3 separate regions of the Homo sapiens genome follow, and regions 1 and 3 are each linked to region 2. The links come from fine-mapping of genetic effects on gene expression. A gene starts in region 2. Each other region holds a variant in brackets. All regions are shown on one strand. Distances are from middle to middle.

Evidence for each region. PIP is the estimated chance that this variant, and not a neighbour inherited with it, causes the effect.
Region 1: its variant is fine-mapped to the expression of CDRT4 in whole blood (TOPMed, PIP above 0.99). The same link has a PIP of 0.9 or more in spleen and testis.
Region 3: its variant is fine-mapped to the expression of CDRT4 in whole blood (TOPMed, PIP 0.99).

The regions. Positions count from the first base shown.
Region 1 is chr17:15,499,399-15,504,625 of GRCh38, forward strand. All of the region lies in intron 4 of TVP23C-CDRT4 (TVP23C-CDRT4 readthrough), which reads right to left. It also overlaps a transcript of TVP23C not described here. Among named protein-coding and RNA genes, the nearest start is that of CDRT3, 31 kb to the left of the region's middle. The variant CA/C (reference allele first, on the strand shown) is at 2,966.
Region 2 is chr17:15,465,215-15,470,441 of GRCh38, forward strand. CDRT4 (CMT1A duplicated region transcript 4) reads right to left here and starts at 2,407. Exons shown (of 4, transcript NM_001204477.2): 1 at 2,246-2,407. The region is part of intron 4 of TVP23C-CDRT4 (TVP23C-CDRT4 readthrough); the gene reads right to left. It overlaps CDRT3 (CMT1A duplicated region transcript 3), which reads right to left. Exons shown (of 1, transcript NR_146601.1): 1 at 5,097-5,227.
Region 3 is chr17:15,578,170-15,583,396 of GRCh38, forward strand. It overlaps a transcript of FBXW10B not described here. Among named protein-coding and RNA genes, the nearest start is that of TVP23C-CDRT4, 17 kb to the left of the region's middle. The variant T/A (reference allele first, on the strand shown) is at 3,091.

The sequences.
Region 1 (5,227 bases), 34 kb after region 2:
TAGCCCCTTGGGCCGCCTTCTAAGGAGTCCACCTGTCCTCTTCACACCAAACGGACCTAATTTACCCAGGTAGAAAAACTCTCAGTGGGTGTCTCCAGGGTACCGTCCCCACTGTCACCGCATCATATTCTAAGCCAGTGGGTGAACAACCTCGGTTCTGGCTCCCCTTTTAACGTGATCAGAGTCTGCCCATGGGCAAGAAAACAGACTCTGTCAGATCATGCATTCTTGTGTTGCTCCTGCCATAACTTTGACCTCCAGCAAATCACCCAGTGCCTCAGTTTCCCCACCGTAAAAGTAGCTCAGAAATGTGATGACTCAAGCCCCCAAAGAAATTCTGGGTAGTTTTGTGTGTCTTCAACACTGCTGAGTGTTTTTTCCAGGTGGCTGGATGACAAATCTTCCTCTAGGATATGTGGGGTTGTAATTTGCCCTCAGAGATGCAGGTGCCCCAGGAGTCTCCTTTAACAAATGAAAAGCCGGTCTCTGCCACATGCCAGGATGCTTGTGAACATCACAGAGGCCACCCGAACCCTATCACAGACCTTCCCTGCTCTGGTGGCTATTAACTCTCCTTCTGAGAAAAACCTCTGAGGATCGGAGCCCACATTTTGTTCAGGGATCCAGCCTGGGCTATTGCCCCAGCTCCAGGAAAGAAGGAGCTGCATGCCTTCTCTGCTTCTATTCTGATTTTTTTTTTTTTTTTTTTTTTGAAGTGGAATCTCGCTCTGTCGCCCAGGCTGGAGTGCAGTGGCACGATCTTGGCTCACTGCAACTTCAACCTCCTGGGTTCAAGCGATTCTCCTGCTTCAGCCTCCCAAGTAGCTGGGACTACAGGTGTACGCCACCACAGTCAGCTAATTTTTGTATTTTTAGTAGAGACAGGGTTTCACCATATTGGTTAGGAGGCTGGTCTTGAACTCCTGACCTCGTGATCTGCCTCTAGGCCTCCCAAAGTGCTGGGATTACAGGTGTGAGCCACCACACCCAGCCCATTCTGATTTTTTAAAAACTGTCCCACATATCAACCCACCATGTTACCACCTGTTTTAACCAATTTGTATTGGAAGTAATGGGCAGAAAGTGTTAAGCTGTGCCGCATATTATGAAATATGACCAGCCCACCCTGGAACACTTTGCAAGGCTCTATCACCTCCACATCCTACTTAACCCTTATAGCTGTCCCAGGAGAGCCCACTCCCTCCACCATTGTATAGACACAGAACTGCTGCACAAAGAACAGAACATAAGCAATTTGGTCAAGATCACTGAAGCAACTGGGATTCGAACCTAGGACTTGCCTGACTCCAAATCCCAGCTATTAACACTTCACTCTGCCTCATCAGGGGGAGAGAAAAATTACATAAGCCAAGGAGAGGTGGTTACATGGAAAGCAAATAAAGAGGAGAAGTGAGTGATCTCAGCCATGGAAGGTTGACAATTCAGGCCATGCAATATATGCTTATTATTATGGTAGACTTCCTATTTGACCTCTTTGAACTTGTGAGATCACTTTAATTCTATAATTTACTTATTCATTCTTTCACTAAGAATTTGCTGAAAATTTATCATGTGTGAAAATGTCTTGTAAACTCTTTTTTTTTTTTTTCCCTGAGACAGAGTCTTGCTCTGTCGCCCAGAGCTGGAGTGCAATGGCGTGATCTCAGCTCACTGCAACCTCCGCCTCCCAGGTTCAAGCAATTCTCCTGCCTCAGCCTCCTGAGTAGCTGGGATTACACGCGTGCGCCACCACACCAGGCTAATTTTTGTATTTTTAGTAGACGGGGTTTCGCCATGTTGGCCAGGCTGGTCTTGGAATCCTGACCTCATGATCTGCCCACCTCGGCCCCCCAAAATGCTGGGATTACAGGTGGGAATCACCGCGCCTGGCCACAATTATTAATTTTTAAACCTGGTGAGAGATGCAAAAGATGTCTGCCCTTAAGGAATTTATAACTTGTTGAACCTAGAATACATATTTCCCTTCTTAGAACAAAAATCAAGCATCTTCTAATAAAAGTGGGAAGGTACAGGATGTAGCTAAAGCATTTCTGTCAGGGTTTTCCCACTGTCCCTTCCTGTTCATCACTGTCCCTTCCTGTTGACTCATTTCAACTTGGGATTCACTATGACCACTAGATCCTTTTCCTCTCTATTTCTCTTTAAGTCCATTCTAACCACCTGGACATTATTTAATCCCAAATTCACAATGCCCACCTTCCCAATCTTTAACTGACTTGGTGAGCTATTAACAAGAGTTCTATTTGACCCAACGACTCACGGAGGAAAGAAGAGAACTTCACATTTGTGGGACTGGCCACAATATGCACTCAGGAGCTGTAGGACTAATGGCCACTCCTCAGAGAGTCCTTGGGGTAAGTGAGGCATAACAGAGAGGCTAACTATAGTAAGTAAGTGGGCTGAGCCTGGCCTGGTTGCTCTCAGCCTTTTCCGCCACTCATTTCCATCAAAAGACTGCCTTTAGGAGCAACGGAGGTTAATGAAGCTGTCCACAATGGGGCAGCCAGCGGTAGTGCGACTGAAGTGGAAATCATGTGAGTTAGGTGAAAAAGTACAAACTGGCCTGATTCAGGGAGCTGCCACCCAGCTGGAGAACAGGTGTTACCTCTCAGTGGGCAGAGCTGCACAAGGCCAGATCCTCTCCCTTCTTAGTCACGAAGGTGCCCTCTGGCTCCAAGGGGAGGAGAGGGAACCAGACCTCACTCCCCAGGCCTCAGACCCCCCATCTCTCTCCATGTCCTTCCCGCTGTGACCTCCTTCAACGGTATAATCACTCAGCCTGTTAGGCACTAAGTAGTAAAACTGGTCAACCTTTAAAACCACTTTTCATTACGAAGGCCCAAAAAAAGATAAAAGATGAAATTTAATGGGGGGTGGGGGGGCACAAGAGGGTGATTGAAAAAAACACAGATAATTTCTGGAATTGGATCTGTTAAGCCTTACA[CA/C]TTAGTCCCCGCCCTCGGAAGTAAGGGCCTGTCATTCTGTAAAGGGACGCAGCCACACGCAGAGAAGGTGGAGGTCTCCACCCCTTCCCTCTTCGTCCTCGCCTAGGAGGGACCGTGGTGCCAGTAAAACAGGGACTGGCTGGCCCAGAGCCTTGGGGATCCCCTCCTTTGTCTGGAACCCTCTGGCTCACCGCATCCTTCCTCGGGGCCGCATGGCCCTGCCCCACAAAGCAGGCGTGCTGGGGGCTGCTTGGCCAGGAAAGCGGACGCTTGCAGGGACCACGCTGCTGCCTCTCTTCTGCCCTTTTCCCCTTAGTTTTACAAGTTCCCTGTTCGTTCGTTCTTTCTCTCTCTCCTCTCTCTCTCTTTCTCTCTCCTCTCTCCCGTCTCTTTCTCTCCTTCTCCGTCACTCTCTTCCCTCCCTCTCTCCTCTCTCCTCTCTCTCCTCTCTCTCTCTCTCTCTCTCTCCTGCGAGGAGCTTCAGATTTGTGGGTTGTTTTTAATGCATTCCGGATGCCAGATGAAATTTTGGCCCGGGCTCACCAGTTCCTCTGCTATTGGGACTCTCCCCACCTCCCCTCCAGGCCCAAAGCCGCAAGGAGAGAAATAGGCGGGCGGGCGCCATCTGTTGGCAGTTGCCTGGAGCCGCACGAAGAGGTGGAGAACTAAGGCGGGGCGCAGGTTTCCAGTAAAGAGCTCGATCCGTGATCCTCGTGAAAGAATTAATGTCTACCTGATGAAACTTCCTCGAGGGATGGCCCGGGCAGCGGCTCACGCCTGTTATCCCAGCGCTTTGGAAGGCGGAAGCGGGAGGATCTCTTGAGCCCAAGACTTTCAGACCAGTCTGGGCAATGTGGCGAGACCGTCTCTACAAAAAATAAAATAAAAATAAATTAGCCAGGTGTAGTGGCGCGCCTGTGGTTCCAGCTACTTGACAGGCCGAGATGGGAGGATCGCTTCAGCCCAGGAAGTCGAAGCTGCAATGAGCTGTGACCACGCCACTGCACTCCAGCCTGGGCGACAGAGCAAGACCATGATATTTCAAGAAAAGTCCTTGAGGCAAAAGGTGACCTGCTTTAGAACGCCTCAGTGCTTAGACATGAACAGTGAAGGGGACTGAAGATTGTTGGAACACGGTGCAGAACCCTCTTAGTCTCGTTTTGTTGCCTTATTATGTTCTATTTCAACTTTCAAAAAAAATTGCTGGCATTAGCATGTCGAAAAATTGGTGACATTAGAATGTCAAATTCTTTGAAGGATGGGGATTTTTGCATTCAGTTTTGTGTTCACCAAAATAAGCTAGCAGGAGATTCTGTGCAAGTTGACTTATAAGTATATGGTTTGCTGAAATCTTATGAGGAGAGGGAAATGTAAAGTAAATGAAGTGGAAATAAGTGGTTGTTATGGTTAGGAAAAGGCCATCGTAAGGCTTCATGGCTAGCATGCAGGCCACCGAAGTTCTATCCCAAACAGAAGGAAGCTCTTGTAGGATGGTGAGTTATGGTAGGGTTCTAGGAGGAGTGGGTGTCAGCCTTTTGGGAGGGGGAATGGAAGGGCTGGGAAGGGTGGGAGGAAGTGAATGAAGTTCCAAAGCCAGGAAGCTAGGCACAACCCTGTGAGTAGTACCAATACCTAAGGATGGTTTCTCAGGGACACTCAGAAAAAAGAGCCCAGTCTCCTGAGAGCAAGCATGCAGCCCTATCCCCACATTTTCCCCTGAACATGGTCCTGTCCACCAAATCAGGCCTGAGGATCCTGAAACACCTCCAGGCCCTGGGCCCTCACCCACTAGACAGCCCAGGAACCAGGAGCCTAGGCCTGAATAATGGGAAGCTCTGGTACTGGGCTTTATATTCCTGCATTTTCAACAGGAACAAGACTATGATGTGTGGGGTTTCACACCCTTTCTCCCTCCCTTTTCCTCTCAGAGCCACCTTTGTCTTTGCCAATTTGTCCCTGGGGTTTGGTGACACAGAGGCAGTGGCCAGAAAAGAGAGGCAGAATTGAAGTCGTGGTCATGGGGCTTTTGCTTCTGGACAAGGCTAAGATTTACTTGGATATGAACATAAAAATAAGGAGTTGCTGGAAGAGAAGAGCTGCGCTTTGGATGGGTTTATTAAGAGTTGAGAGCGCGGAAGATGAGGCAGCTTTGGAAATCAGCTGCAGTAGCATGAAGGATACTGAGAATCATTTTAATAAAGACAATTTTTTTTTAAGAGACAGGGTCTCGTGCTTTGGCCCAGGCTAGAGTGCAGTGGGGT
Region 2 (5,227 bases):
CACACCAACACACAGACACACACAACAGACACACACCAACACACACAACACACACACCAACACAAACACACACCAACACCAGACACACCAACACACAGACACACACAACACAGACATGCACAACACAGACACATACCAACACCAGACACACCAACACAGACACACATAACACACACACCAACACACACACACAACACACACCAACACAGACATACACCAGTACCAGACACACCAACACACAGACACACATAACGGAGATACACATCAACACCAGACATACAAACACAGACACACACAACACAGACCCACACCAATACCAGACACACCAACACAAACACACACAACAAAGACACTTAGGTACAAACACACACACCAACACACAGACACACATACACCAGCACAGAGATACACACCAAGACATTCATACAACACAGACACACACGCACAAAGATACACACAACACACAAAACACACAAACACACAGTCATATCACAAACACGGAGACACATATGCCTACACATGCACAGACACGCATGCTAACGCCTTCCAATATGGCAGCCAAGGGGCTCTTGCTGTGGTCAGGGAAGAGGGGGAGGGAGCCTGGCCATCCACCGTGGGGAGGACATGCAGCGCGCATCGTGAGGACTCCAGACCCCTGAGGGTGGTAGCAGCAGGAGGGCAACAGAGGATCCTAGAGTTGCTGCACCTGGGGGCAGATCCAGTTGTTACAGGGCCTGAGCATTCTACAGCTGGTGGGGAAACCCTCTTTGTGCCCTGCACAAGTGGTAAGCACTTAGAAGACATCCCTGAAGGAGGGAGAGAAAGGGAGGGAGAGGGAGGGAAAGGGAGGGGGAGGGAGGGCAGAGCCTACCAGGAAGCCTGGAGGAAGCCTGCGACCTGGGACCCAGGTCAGCTCCCTGACCCAGGCCAGTGGGTGAACTGACAAGTGACAGAGTCTGGATTTGAACCCAGGGACTCGGCTGCCCATGTTCTTAACCTGCGTCACCTATCTGCCTCTCTCATACTGACTCAATGTAGCTCAAACAAGTGTAAAGCAAGAGCTTCCAGCACAAACAGTGGGCTTCGGGCTCAGGCCTCCAGAAACACTGCCTGGGGTGGGAGCCTGGGCGCTGGGCCAGCTTCCACCCAGATGGGGAGAAGGGAAGGGCTGCCTCATCTGCAGAAACGAGTCTCTTCTGTTCTCTTCTCCCCACCCCTATCTACACCAAGGTGCATTCATGGATCGCAAGGTTTCTTACTAATTTTTTGTTTCATTCACTGGTGTCTTTTATTCCTTGTTCTAAATTACTTTTTTTAATTTTTACTTTTATAGAGACAGTCTCACTGACACCCAGGCTGGAGTGCAGTGGCACGATCATGGCTCACTGCAGCCTCAAACTCCTGGGCTCACACAGACACACACTCAATACAGACACACACCTGGACTCAAGGGGCCCTCCTGCCTCAGCCTCCAGAGTAGCTGGGACTACAGGTGCACACCAATGCCCAGCTAATTTATTTTTATTTTTATTTTTGTAGAAACGGGGTCTTGCTATGTTGCCTAGGCTGGTCTTGAGTTCTCGGCCTCAAACAATCCTCCTGCCTCAGCCTCCTTAAGTGGTGGGATTACAAGCATGATTAATTATTTTTAAATAAGTGACTTGATTATTATTGTTTTGTAAAAATCCTCTTAGTCACCTTTGTCCCTATAGGTTTCTATAGGTGCTTAATAATTTTTTAAAGGTATTTACCAGTTCTGGCTAAACATTCCTTTGGTCCTGAGCTCTGTGGAGAGGTAATGCATCTGTGGGAACATCATCACCCTCATCCCCAACCCATCACCCCCAGGGGATGGGGGGGAACGGGGGTATATTTTGTGTGTGTGTGTTTTGCTTAAGTAGAGTGGTCAGCCCTGAGTGTACAATAGAATCACCTGGCTGTCATTATAGACATACCTGAGCTCAAGCCCTCTGCAGACAAAGTAAATCAGAATCCTAGGAATGGGACGAGCTTGTTGGCAAGGGTTGGGCATCAGTACGTTTTACAAAGTCCTGAGGGGATTGGGTGACCAGGATTGGGATCCACTTAAGGGAAGTAATGCTGGGGACTCTGGGGACCCTTTAATGGCAGGATTATTCTTTGATGAAGGACCTGACCTTCTCCTGGAAGTTGAGTGTGAGCCTTTTCACTTTCACCCTCGACTTCCCTCTCTGGGGACACCCAGTGTTCTGGCCCAGACTGTTACCTGAGAAGTTTCTGTGATTCCCCATCCTTCCTGCACTATCTTGGCTGTTCCCCTGCCCGGCGTTTATATTTTGTCTCCAGCTGTCCCCTGTGCTCTCAATCCCACTTCTCTTTGGCTCTCTCTTTGCTGCAGCTAACCATCCTCTTGCCCCTGCCCCAAAGTGACCCATGAGCCAGAAGTCAGGAGTGAAGGGGGGCACTGTGACATCAGAAGTTGCCATGCACCCCCTCCTGAATCTTCTGCCCTGCTCTCTTCCTCCTCTGCAGGCTCAGCGGTCACCAGCAATGCAGTCCTCAAACACGGACATTAGAGTGATTATTCCCACCCCCAAGAGTGAACACCTACTATGTGCTGGACCCTAGACCAAACACATACACACATAAAGATACACAACACACACACATGCACACACACACACCCCAACATGCATGACCTCATTTGAGATCTCTGATCATTTCAACAAGCAGTTACTCTGGCCCAGACGCAGCCAACTACAGAGATAGACAAGACCTGTGGTCTCTTTCCTTAGTGCCAGAATCTCCTAGAAGGTCTATTAAGACAGATTGCTGGGTCCCACTCCCAGGGTCTCTGATTCAGTATATGTGGGGTGGGGCCCAAGAACTTGCCTTTCTAACAAGCTCTCAGCCTTCTTCTGAAATAAAATCCTCTTTAGATAAGCTGGAGAGAGAATGGCTGTCACTAACAGGCTGTTGAGAATTAGCCTCCTTCTCCCCAACTCCATTGACCGGCCAGTGCTTGGCAATGGAGAGAGCGAGCAGCTTCTAACCTCCCCTGTGGCCCCAACCGTGAAAAAGTCCCCAAGATGCCAGGAGGACACAGTGCAGAGCAGGCTGTAAAGTCTGGCAGTTTAATTGCAGTCATCAACTCGGGGCAGCACCAGGAGACAGGCTGGACTTGCTCTCCCTGTGTTATCATCATGCCCTGTTGACAATCCTTTGAAATGTCTCTCCCTGTGTCTGTTCCTTCTGCTCCTCTCCACTCCCCCACCACCTCTCCAATCCCAGAGTTCAACCTGTCCAGCCAGGAATGTAAAGTCCCCTCACTTCTCTGCAACCACAGCAAGCACTTGAGCTTCCTCCAAATCATACTGACTCAATCATATATTTCCCACGATCTCCTTTTCTTCATAGTTCTCTATAATCTTCAGAGAGAGGTGCATTCTAGAAAAAGGCCAGGCAGAAAACACCTGTGTTTCAGCCTCAGTTTTATCATTTAGTTGTAAGAAAACATACATCAAGTGGATCCCCAACAAAAATCTACCTCTCCTCACTGCCCACGAGTCAGTACCTAGAGCCTCAGGCAGAGCCCTCATTGCTGCGGTTCTCAAAAAGCCTTTCTCTATCCTCCCCTCTCTCCAGGCTCTAGTTCCTCTTCAACTCCAGCCCTAAACTCCCTGAATTCATTCTCGCTCTGGAGCTCCCGTGTCAGCGGAGCCATGCCTTCAACCTTTCCATGGGCCCCTATTTTGTGGCTCAGTGTCCCTGAGCCCTGAGTATCTCCATTCAGTTCTTCAAACAAGTTCTAGACAAGGGAAGGATCTGAGCAAAGTCACGGAGGTGCGGGACAGCCTGGGCGTCTGGAAATGCTACGGGAAATGCACAGGTGAGGGGGATGGGGGGGAGTTGGGGTGGGCCAGTCTGACAAGGTTCTGCTCTCTCTCCCAGCAAGTCTGGGGAAGACAGTGGACATCTTTGAGTGCACAGGCCAGGTGTGAAGTGTAGCGGATGAGCAGGGGACCTCCCCTGTGGTTCCACAAGAACCTCCAAAGACTCACCCCAGAAGTCTTCTGCAGCTTGAAGTGACTCTCTGAGCTGCTTATACCTAGCGCTGATGTGCAATGGGCCAGGGCCCGGCAGGGAGCCAGACCCTCGGACTCGAGAAAGCCATTTGAGAGTGACATCAGCCCACCACCTGCTAGTGCGCACTCACAGTGTTTCCGGAAGCCATGATGCTAATCATGTCTGTTTCTGTGTTGTCCATGGCAAGACTCCAAGCCCAGAAAAGAAAATCTGTAGCCCAAGTTATTTTCCTCCCACAGGGCTTGCCTGGCCTTTGATTGTTGGCTTTGGGGAGGTGCATTTCTCCCTCCTCTGTGGGCAGCAAATTCCCCGTGAGTCAACAGATCCTGTATCTGGGCTCACCATGGGCTTCTACTGGCACTGAGAAGGGGCAAGCTGAGCAAACATGCAATGTGACCCCAGTGCTGACCAACCCAGAGATGCCCCATGGGACTCAGGGACTTGACCTCAGTGCTTCTGGGGTCCCTCAGTGTATCTTGCTGGCCTCAGCACTGGGCTGCTTGGTAACCTCCCCACAGGCAGGTACTAAGTGCAGCCAGCCCCTTCATTCAAGGCAGAATGAATTAAAAAGCTGGGGTTCCAGAGTTGGCTCCAGGTCACCCATGCACACACCCCATGCCAGGTACTGCTCTCAACTCTTCACACACTAGCTTATTCTGGGCTCAAAACTCCCAGGAATACCTTCGAGGCAGTTTCCACTACTCTAATCCCCATTTTACAAAGTGATGAAACTGAGGCACACAGTTCAGTAAGTTGCCCACGGATACACAATTCATAAGTAGAAAAATCAAAGTGCAAATTCCAGAACGTACACCACTAAGAAGGGGCCACGAGGCAGCTCTCCCCACCTGAGAATCCCCCTGAAATCCATGGTGAGCCTGCCCAGAGCCCCCACCCCTACCCAACTTACATTGGCTGCTCTTCCTTTTGCCCCAGAACCCCAAATAACTGGCCAAATGGACTCAGGTGTATCCCTTTGGCCTCCACGCTCAAGTTTTATATGAAAAAATAAAAAAACACAGAAAAAACTCAATGCGTTAGGTCAGTTTATTAACTCTCCCTCTTGGTCCCCAAATTGCCTTTCAGGGTGTTGAGCAGCTGCACACATCACCCCTTCCTCATGAGGTCCCCTTGGCCCTTTACCTCCAGCTGAGTAAGTCAA
Region 3 (5,227 bases), 110 kb after region 2:
ATAATGGCCAATAGACCAAATCCTGAAGAAGCATTTTTTGTTTGGCCTGCTGTGCCAGGCTGGTCCTTGTAGATGTCTGCATTTGTAAACATGGTCCCTGGCCAAAGGTCCTGGTCCCAAGGGGCAGGTAAGGAGATGGAGTAAGAGGTCAGCACTATACCTCCGGGTAGCTGCACGTGCACGCAGCTGCCAGTCTCCAAAGCAGCAGAGATGGATAGTTTTATTTCCCAGCTTCATTCTTTATAAATTGTGTTTTATTTAAGCTTTTCAAAGACTCTTTAAAATTCATTGACCCTATTTGGTGCAGGTGAACAAAGCTATTTTTTAAGTAGAGTCCTATAAATTAAAAATAAGGAGGCAGATCAGAGAATTCAACTATCTGGCTCAATCAGGAGAAAGGAAAGGTATGTGTCTGTCACGTGGCAGGCATTGGGTGTTATGGGATCCAGGAGTAATGGAGGGATTCGGTAGTTGGTCCCTGCCCTCAAGAAATTAGAAAAACAGACTAAGAGATTGGACTACAATGCTGGAAACTCTGATTTTCGTAGCTGGGACAATAGGAATCACTCCTCCTTAAAAATTCCTAAGTCTTTGTACAAATTACCCTTAATTTAAGATGAATTGGTGTAGCATAATTCAGGGGTCACCACGTACTCCCCTCTGAATAAGAAGGCTGAATCTCAGTGGTCAGCAATGAGGGAGATTCATTTTGGTATTTTTTTCTTTTTTCTTTTATAGGCAATCTTTCTTCTCTTCCTTCTAGATTAACAGGATTCTTTCAGTCAGCTTTCAAAACTCATTCAGTGTAGATCTGGTTTGTTTTCTTCCTTGAAAAAAATTATTAATATAATACCACAGTCTCTGCACCGAACATCATGATGCATGCCTATAATCGCAGCTACTCAGGAGGCTGAGGTGGGAGAATCACTTGACACCAAGAGTTTGAGCATTTTTTAGAGATGGGACCCCATTTCTTAAAATAAATAAATAAATAAATAAATAAAAAGGTGTCTGTGTGTGTGAAACCACAATCTCCACGTTCTGAATGTAATTATGCCAAATATATTTTCTTCTTACATTCTTTGCATTTCTTTTAAACATGTTTTAAAATTTAATTTTCTTTTAAAATAGGTTTTGTTTTCCCATTTTCTTCACAATTTCCTTAAGTTCTGAATTTACATCAGTCATCTGCCACTCTACAATATCTATAACTTGAGACATGTTCAGAAATAGAAAACTCCTAAATAAGATTCTGGGGAGACATTTTCAAAACAGTTTTCTGTAGAGGCTTTCTCCAGAAACTCATTTCCAAGCTCCAATGTGGGATTTACACGGGAAATTAAAGTTAAATTGTCTTGATTTGATTAAGGTTTTGCATTTTCTTTTGTTTTTGAAGAAAGGATATTTTATTTTGTAATTTCAAAGTCATTTATTGTGGAAGAATGACCAAGAAGTATGAAATTAATTTTTGTCTAAACTAATTACCTGCAGAGCTGCTCAAAATATAAAGCTTTCTTGACTTAACATTTCATAGGCTTCTCTGAGACATTACTTAACAGAAAGGCCACATTTTTCCAGGAAGTTATTTAAAAGTCAGGTAATTTAAATTACATTTATTAAGTGCAATAAATAGGCACCAAATTAAAGCTTGTTTCTCTCTTATTTGTTCTTAATTTCTGTAGAAAATTATACTTTCGTAGAGCTATGTAGGGGCTGATGTTTAGTAAACAAAACAATGTTATATTTAAAAAGGAGAAAAAAATAATTCATAGAAATGTGTGGACCAATTTTTCCCCACTCTCAATCCATCAGTTTCTTTTCTACAGTAGCCTTGGGCAGGAAAGGCAGAGGTAGAAAAATCTCAAGCAGTGATGCTCAGTAGAAAGACATCTTAATTTAAAATGTAATTCAGTTTTGTATATGAGTTTTGAAATAAATCATCATTCAACCCTCAGCATGAACCATGAACCGATTTGCATGCGTGAGTGAATGAATATAAAAGAATTTTTTTGTTCAAGAAAATTAGTCTTTTTCTGACCACCCCCATCAAATAGTGCTGTTTTTCTTATTCACACATTTATTCTGTGTTGTTGAAAATTAGAACTTTTTTTGCAATATTATCACACCTTGTTCAACTCTATTTCAGATTGTTCTTATATAAATTCAATCCAGCAAGAATCACTCACAGAGATTATTAATTCCTCTGTTCTTAATAAAAGGCCATTACAGCTACTGTTGCAGCAGTGCAAGAGCACCAACGTTTAAAAAACATGTTTTGTATGTGATCAATCTAGCTTTTCAATATACCACTTTTTGTAATTTGGTATAATAAAATTAAATTGTAAGTAAAATTAAAATTGAAGATAAAAATAGTGGTATATTCATGTCTTTATAAGTCTGACAAAATAAATCAGGGGAAACAATTTATGGCAAGTTTATCAGCCCCTCCCTCCAGCTCTATTTAAATAGGTCCTTCCTATTTAAATTATTCTGTCTTATTTCATCTGTTCTTTCTTGTAGCTGATTTTACAATTGGAGAGTTCACGGTAGTTACATGTGTTTGTTTAAGGTCTGTCTTCCTTTCTAGACTAAACTCTTGCTGTTTTGTTCACTGCTGTACAGCTACACTTAGCATAGTGGCTATCTAGGCAATGAGAAATTTTAATGAATGAATGAATGAACAAGTCAACACTATGTGCTCATTTAACAAGCACTTTTTAAGTGCTTTATTTACATCATTGTATTTAATTCTTAAGACAACTCTATAATACCTCCCATCTTACAGATGAAGAATCTAAGGCCAACAGATTAAATAATTTGCTCAAGATCACACGGCTAAACAAGTAGAAACCCGCCTTCCCTATTGTCTTTTTATTGAGCCTTTACCTAAGCAAGTTTGACTTGAAAGTTTCAGTCTTGCCATTGAAAGAGCCATAATACACCCTTTCAGTTGAGGAAACCAAGGACCAGAGAGGTTAAATAAGTTACCCACTTTTAAATAACTAGTTAACTTCAGAGTCAGAACTAGAATGCAGACCACCTGATCCTACTCAGCATGCTTAGTTATGGTTCCATGAGGAAACCAGAATT[T/A]AGCACTAATAATAAAAAGTATTAAAGTATTTTTAAAACATATTTCTTATGAAAAATCCCAACAGATGGAATAGTAGAGCTCACTCTACAGTGGACCCTCAACATACTCATGGCCCAGAATCAACAACTATCAAGACTTTTACCACACTTGCTTCATCTTGCCCTTTAAGTACTTTTAATGATCAAAACACTTGTAGCTGTATGATTAAATTAAAACAAAGTAGATAGTGCAGGTAAGTCAGAAGTCTAAGGATATATCCAAAGTTCCTCTGCTAATTGATAACAGAGCTAGTTCACAGCCCTCTATTCTTCCACTAGAACATGCCAAGAGATATATAATGAAAGACAACTGAAAGTGGATGACCTAACCAGGCCGGCCGCAGTCAGCACTGGAGTGGAGCGGCTTATGTTGGCTCAGCATATGTAGCTTGGCCAGATGGGGACCAGCATCACATTGGTAATGGTATAGTAGTTATCAAATCTCAGAGAGCTTCCAGACCACGTGGATTCCTAACAAGTTCCCAGGTGATGCTGATGGTCCAGGAGCCACACTTAGAATCATGGTGTGGAGGATCTACCCAGAAATTCCAATGAGGCCCTCTTTCCTAAGGTAACTGAGCCCAGAGACACCCAAGAAGGCCAGCTTAGCCTTTCTTCTCCTCATCTTGCTTCTAGAAACCAGATGTCAGAGTAACACTTGAACTGGAAGCAAACTGCTAAGGAATTTAAATGATAAAAAGGAGAAAAAGGACTAATAAAAAAAACATATTTCACAAAAAATTTAAATATTGAATAAATTATGAAAGGAGAAAACTCAGGTGTGTATGTGTGTGTGCCTGTGTGCGTCTCCAGGCTTGGGATGCTTTCAAAAATCCATCTAGGAATGGGAAGAGCCGATGGTTTTTGTTTTTTTAATCAAAGGCTGAATGGTATGATTAAGAGAAAGAGTATATAGACTAATTGACCTAAAATAACAAGAAATCAGTCTTTGACATAATAGTGTTTGAGATCTCTGAGATTTAGCTCTGACCACATTTTATGAGCACTAAGGCAGAAAATCATAGTTGTGTTTAACTGAGATGAAAAATGAACACTCTTTTCTAACCTTTTTCTATCTAAAAGATAGATCTCTTGATTAAAACAGCTAAACTTCAACAACCTGAATATAACCATGATATTTAAAGATTTCATGGCAAATCAAACTTAATAACCCACATATTAATTGATATATTCTCTCTTTATTCCAAAACCATTATTATTGCTTGTCCTCTTTCTACTTAACAGTTCCAAAGAGAGTCCTTTACTTTTTTTTTACTGATGTCTCATTGTATACAAATATTCTAAAGAAAATCCTCTAGTTACCCCTTTATTTAACTTTTTTCCTCTGCCTTATTTCAAACAAGAGTTCAAGTAACTTGCAAATATATGTAAAATGTGACAAAATAGTCCAGAAAAAGAAGACTAAGAAGAGACAAAGTGGAGCCAAGAATAATAGAACTTAAAGTGCAAACCATGATCACCCTCATGTCATTAGACCAAAGAGCCGTTCAGTGGGAGAGGAGGGCCCGCTCTCTGCTTCTAATGTGCTCCACCAATGCATTTTAGGAAATCTGGAAGATAGATTAAAGATACAAGCTAGCTGAAGGCTGTTTCTCTCAACGAAGCATTTGATAAAAATTATGTGGTGGTGTGCCCACGATTCTTCTTCCTTTAAAATGCCTAACTTGAGCCTCTCTTGGTGAGGTGAATTAAACAAATGCTTGTCTCTCTTTGCTGACTTCCACATGGCAGGCAGAGTAGTCCTTCTAAAAAGCAGATCTGATCATTTTCTTCCACTTTTTAAAATCTGGAAGACTTCACTGAGTCTGCATTTGCCCAGAGGTCTCTGTATGTGGCCTTCCTAATTTCTGTGCTCTCTTGACACCTCCCACCCTCATTCTACTCTCCAGATATGTGGAACATAAACTTGCCATTCTTCTCCTCTTTGGCCTTCTCACACGCTGTTCCCACTGCCTGCAACTCTCTTCTCCACCCTTTCCGCCCATCTCCCACCCATCCATCGGGTCTCAGTTTACACATCACTTCTTCCTAGAAACACCCCCTGTCCACCACCCAGCATAAACTAGGTTAGGTGCCC